2 separate regions of the Homo sapiens genome follow, and region 1 is linked to region 2. Evidence: fine-mapped expression QTL. A gene starts in region 2. The other region holds a variant in brackets. All regions are shown on one strand. Distances are from middle to middle. Region 1 holds the start of MIR4673 (microRNA 4673). Region 2 holds the start of ENTR1 (endosome associated trafficking regulator 1).

Region 1 (2,896 bases), 110 kb before region 2:
GGCCCCCCTGTGGAGACATTGTAGGGAGCTCTGAGCATGCAGGCGGCACCCAGGTGCAGGAGCTGCCGGAACCTCTTAAAAGAGACCCAAGGGTTTTTGTGACAGAATCTTCTGGAACCCTGTGTTCCTGAGTCCCTGTTTAGCCAGTCCTGTCCAAAATGATTCTTTCAAGCAGGGCGTGTCCCTCTGGGCACTGGAGTGAGGCAGGGGACGGGCACAGACCCCGGGGGCCCCAGGGCAGGGCCGTGGAGGCCAGGCTCTTGTGTCCAGAGCAGTGTGTCGGGGGTCCAGGCAGGAGCCGGACTGGACCTCAGGGAAGAGGCTGACCCGGCCCCTCTTGCGGCAGGCTTCACCGGCCAGAACTGTGAGGAAAATATCGACGATTGTCCAGGAAACAACTGCAAGAACGGGGGTGCCTGTGTGGACGGCGTGAACACCTACAACTGCCGCTGCCCGCCAGAGTGGACAGGCGCGTATACGGGTCGCCGCAGGGCGGGGTAGCCGGGGCGGGGCTGCTACCCACTTACTAAACTGCACTCACAGGCATAGCGGGGAGCAGCCGAGACCCTGTCCCAGGCCAGGCAGACTAGGGTTGGCCGAGAAGGACAACATGATGGGGGCCCCACTTCCCGTGGCCAGGGTCTGGTGCCCCTCACCTCGGGGGTCAGCACAGACAGGGCCCTGGTTGGTCTGTGTGGGCCGTTTGCAACCTGGCTCCAGGCAGCCCCTGTGCCCAGTGGGGTGTCCTGGCATTGAGGGCCTTCAGCACCCCACTCAGGCCACGCTTCCTGGGCCAGTCACAGGGATGCCTGGATGAACAGACAGGCCCTGTGTTCGGGAATTACCCTCTGGTGGGGTGACGGGCAAAGGTGCACCCCGACGCAGCAGTGTCCACAGAGCACAAAGAGGAGGCAAGACTCCATGGTGCTGGGCCTGCAGAGGAAGGAGTGATTTAGGCTGGCGGTGGGTGGAGGAGTCAGCCCAGGAAGGCTTCCTGGAGGGGGCGGCATTGCCACCCTGCGTCTTAGGGGACAGGGAGCTCAGGGAGTGGCAGCTGCCCGGGGCCGACAGCTCCTGTTCCCTGCAGGTCAGTACTGTACCGAGGATGTGGACGAGTGCCAGCTGATGCCAAATGCCTGCCAGAACGGCGGGACCTGCCACAACACCCACGGTGGCTACAACTGCGTGTGTGTCAACGGCTGGACTGGTGAGGACTGCAGCGAGAACATTGATGACTGTGCCAGCGCCGCCTGCTTCCACGGCGCCACCTGCCATGACCGTGTGGCCTCCTTCTACTGCGAGTGTCCCCATGGCCGCACAGGTGAGTGCCTTGAGGCCCAGGTGGGCGCAGGGGGCTCACATGGGCCAGGCCTGAGCTGTGTGACCTCACCCAGGGACTGTGGCCCTCCTGCACCCAGGATAACCTGAAAGGGCCTTTCTGGTCAGGGAGGCCGGTGGTCGCTGTGAGTCCCCCGGAA[C/G]GTCCCAAGTGTCACGGGATGCCCGACGGGGTCACGGCGGGCAGCTCCTCCTGGGGTGTCAGTGGGGTTGGACCCCAGCCGTGGGTGGTGTGCCATGCCTGGCCCAGGGGCCGTGCCCACTGACCGCCGCTGCCTGCCCAGGTCTGCTGTGCCACCTCAACGACGCATGCATCAGCAACCCCTGTAACGAGGGCTCCAACTGCGACACCAACCCTGTCAATGGCAAGGCCATCTGCACCTGCCCCTCGGGGTACACGGGCCCGGCCTGCAGCCAGGACGTGGATGAGTGCTCGCTGGGTAGGTGCCAGCACAGGGGGTGCGGCCAGGTGGGGGTGGCAGCCTGGCCCCAGAACCGATGAGAAGTCGATTCTGGCTTCAGGGGGTGCCCAGTTAGATGGGGGATGGGACCCTGCCAGTCCGATGGGGGTGGTGTGCAGTGAGGTGTTGCAGGGGCCAGGGTGCCTGGAGCAGCCTCTCACCCGTGTGCCCTCGCCAGGTGCCAACCCCTGCGAGCATGCGGGCAAGTGCATCAACACGCTGGGCTCCTTCGAGTGCCAGTGTCTGCAGGGCTACACGGGCCCCCGATGCGAGATCGACGTCAACGAGTGCGTCTCGAACCCGTGCCAGAACGACGCCACCTGCCTGGACCAGATTGGGGAGTTCCAGTGCATCTGCATGCCCGGTGCGTCGGCCGGGGCCAGGGCGGGAAACCGAGTCGAGGCTGGGCAGCCTTGGAGGGGCAGCCCCGGGAACATCTGTGGGTTGCTTCCGCTTTCCCCAGCCTCCATGCCTTCTGGGCCCACAGCCTGCACAGGGCATGGGGAAACTGAGGCCAGGCCACAGGGCCAGCAGAGCACGGGGGCAGTGCTAGGCAGATGAGGGTGCCGGGCCAGGGGCCACGGGCTGCAGGGGAGCGGGTGCGCAGGGGGCCCGTGGTGGCTGGGACACTGGGCTGGAGGCAGGGTTCGTTTCTGTCCCAAGTCCACAGCTGTGCCCAGTGGGGCACTGGGGCCGCGCGTGCCCCCCTCACTGTTGCCCCACCCCACAGGCTACGAGGGTGTGCACTGCGAGGTCAACACAGACGAGTGTGCCAGCAGCCCCTGCCTGCACAATGGCCGCTGCCTGGACAAGATCAATGAGTTCCAGTGCGAGTGCCCCACGGGTGAGGGCCACCCCCGCCCCCTGCCCCCGGGTCGTCTGCACCCTGGCCTCCTGAGGGGTGCCTGGGCGTGGGTTGTGTCCCCTGCCCCCGGGCCATCTGCACCCCGGCCTCCTGAGGGGTGAGGGCCGCCCCCACCCCCTGCCCTCGGGCCGTCCGCACCCCGGCCTCCTGAGGGGTGAGGGCCGTGGGTTGTGTCCCCTGCTCCTGGGCCGTCTGCACCCCGGCCTCCTGAGGGGGGCCTGGCCGTGGATTGTGT
Region 2 (2,841 bases):
TGTCCATCAACTGTAGCAAAAACAGGCTTGGGTACTCCAGGTAAGGGAGAAGAGAGGGGGATGTTGGGATAGGCACCACCACTACTAAACCGTCTGTACGCAGGAGGTCCAAACCTAAAACAGAGAAAGCGGCCCAGTTACAACAGGCTTGAGACAACAAACCTGTGATGACCTGTTAGGTGCGGTTAGTTATGTTTTGTCTGGGTTAAAAGTGAGCATCTGCCTTTCTACAGGACTTATTTCTACAGACTTTGGAAGACAAAGCAGAGGCTGACAACAAAGGCTCAGCCACGGGACCTGGAGCAAGCTGGTTCCGTCCTTTGGGTCTTAGTTGCTATCTCTGTAAAAACAGGGCTTATTAACAGTAACTCACTCTAAGTGCAGTTTGTACACATAAAGCACTTAACAGCTCTGCCCTCCAACAGCACCACCGAAGTCTTGGATAAAAGCCATATCCCTTATTAACCTGGTCCGAAGGCGGGGTGTGACTTGGCCTCTGTCTCCCTCTCCAAACTCATCTCTTGAACCCCCACACTCCCATAGGTCCTGGTCACACTGATTCTTGTCAATTCCTGGAACACATTTGACTCATCAACCCCAAAGCTTCTTCACCGTTCCAGGGCTTGCCCTTTGCCCATGCCTACCCCTTCTTTCATTCTTCAGCTCTTCCCTTAAATGTCACCCTGATGGAGGACTATCCCTCACCAGTCTAGTCTTTCCTGCTATTTTCTATCATGAAAGGCTGCTTGTTTACTCCAAAGCATTTACGCGACTGCCGATATTTTGTTTACGCTCCAGCCTGTATCCATCTCCTGGAGGCAGCACCTCCGCACCCCTGAAACGGCGCTCGTTGTGTGGGGAGGGGCGACGCCTGTGCTGTCGGAACAAAGTTCCAGCGTGGGGAAAGGCAGGCCCGGTCACTTGGGTGGGAGGAGCGGTGGGTACGGAAAGGGTTCTTAAACGTCAGAGATCAACGGACAGACCGCAGCAACCGAGAGCCTGGACCCTGGTGTCAGAACCCTGCGGGTCTAACAGAGCTGGGCCCCCACCGGCTCAGCCTCCTGAAGGAGCACGCGGTAGGTGAAGCGCGGGGGCAAATATGAGGCATGGCCTCGGAGAAGGCCCGTCGACCCGGGAAGTGAGGGGGGGAGAGGACCCAGCAGCCGGGGAGAGGAGAGACAGATGGGACTGCGTCCCCGGGCTCGAGGCGCAAAGCAAGGCAGGGCCCCCGTCGCCTCGGGGACACCAGTGTCCCGAAGTGCGAGCCCGTCCCACGGGCGCCATGTCACCTGTAGAAACCGAAGACGGAGCGTCCAGAAAGACTCGAGCCGCCCCCGCCCCAGGCCGAAGCCTGGTTCGCCTTTGGCTCACCTCAGCCGCGAACAGCCCCAAGAACCCGAGCCCCGCAGCAACCGCGTCGCCGCCAGCACCACAGCCGCCATCTTGCGTCTCCGCCCCGCTTCAGTCGTCACTTCCGCTTCCGCCCACGGCTTCCCCTCCCCCTCGCCGACGGCCCAAGGCGTTCAGGCACGCGCTTTCGGTGCTCGGAGCGGAAGCAGCGGCGAGAGGCTCGGAGGCGCGGGGGCGGCCGAGCGGCGGGCGACGGGGGCGGGCGACGGGGGCGGGCGACGCGGGCCGCGGCACGGGCGGAGCCGGGGCCATGGAGCCGCCGCTGCCGGGCTAGGCAGGTCGTGCCCCGCCGGGCCGGCGGCGATGTCGGGCTACCAGCGCCGCCCGGGCGCCACCCCGCTGTCCCGAGCCCGGAGCCTCGCCATTCCCGACGGTGAGCGGGGCAGGGGCCGAGTCCAGCGGTCCAGGTGGGCGGCGGCCGCCCCGGCACGCAGTAAAGTCGCTGTTGTCGTTGCTTCCAGCTCCAGCGTTCTATGAGCGCCGGTCTTGTCTCCCCCAGCTAAATTGTGAGCGCCCCCATGGCAGGGACCTGGACTCCCCCTTCTTCGGCATTCGGCCGGCCTTTATGTGCTATGTGCCCAGCCCGGTGCTGGCTTCCGTGGGAGACACAGGTGAGAGACGAGGGCGCCGGCCCCGGGGACGCTTCCAGTTCCCGCGCCACGTGTGGCACCTCCGCTGCAGCACGAGCTCGTCCATTGACCCATCAATGTGCAGAGCGCTCACTGCGTGCCAGGCACTCGGAATTCAAAGGCGGAGTCCCCTGCTAGGAGCTCACAGTCTGGTTGCGGGGAGACCTCCCCCAAGACAGACAGTTCCAGTACAGGATGGTTAGTGCCCGGGGAGCACAGGAGCCCGCCCGCTTTCCTCGTGGGGCTGGAGTCGGGGTGCCTTCACCTAGTGGGCAGTGATTGGAAACCGAGCTGGAGCATTCCATCTGCCTCCACAGCCGGGCAGTGGCCAGATCTGGTTCGTCCTCGTTCTACCCAAGCAGAAGTGCTGCTGGGTGCCCGGGGTGTGCAGGAGTGTTTGTGTGGTTATGCCAGGATCTGAGGACATTCGGGGGTTGTCACAAGACAAGAGGACGCGCTTGCCCCGGCTGGGCTTCAAAATCTGCTGAGGAGCCGCTTTCAGACCACGGACACCAGGGCCAGTCTGCAAGTCAGGCCATCTCCAGGGTCACAAGTCTGGGAGCTTGTGTTTTTTTTAAAGTTTTCTCGGCTGACCGGGCGCAGTGGCTTACGCCTGTAATCCCAGCACTTTGGGAGGCCGAGGCAGGCGGATCATGAGGTCAGGAGATTGAGACCATCCTGGCTAACAGGGTGAAAACCCGTCTCTACAAAAAATACAAAAAAATTAGCCGGGCGTGGTGGCAGGTGCCTGTAGTCCCAGCTACTCGGGAGGATGAGGCAGGAGAATGGCGTGAACCCAGGA

What was found.
Region 1: its variant is fine-mapped to the expression of ENTR1 in whole blood (INTERVAL, PIP above 0.99).

Annotation. Positions count from the first base shown.
Region 1 is chr9:136,517,016-136,519,911 of GRCh38, reverse strand. It overlaps NOTCH1 (notch receptor 1), which reads left to right. Exons shown (of 34, transcript NM_017617.5): 5 at 347-469; 6 at 1,088-1,321; 7 at 1,620-1,775; 8 at 1,975-2,160; 9 at 2,527-2,640. MIR4673 (microRNA 4673) reads left to right here and starts at 286; the gene lies at 286-344. The region is part of intron 1 of LOC124902310 (a long non-coding RNA gene); the gene reads right to left. The variant C/G (reference allele first, on the strand shown) is at 1,479.
Region 2 is chr9:136,409,270-136,412,110 of GRCh38, reverse strand. ENTR1 (endosome associated trafficking regulator 1) reads left to right here and starts at 1,497. Exons shown (of 10, transcript NM_001039707.2): 1 at 1,497-1,783; 2 at 1,872-2,021. The coding sequence starts at 1,714. PMPCA (peptidase, mitochondrial processing subunit alpha) reads right to left here and starts at 1,453. Exons shown (of 13, transcript NM_015160.3): 1 at 1,372-1,453; 2 at 1-114. The coding sequence starts at 1,442. RefSeq lists enhancers at 1,215-1,264, 1,295-1,384, 2,235-2,394 and silencers at 1,595-1,684, 1,825-1,874.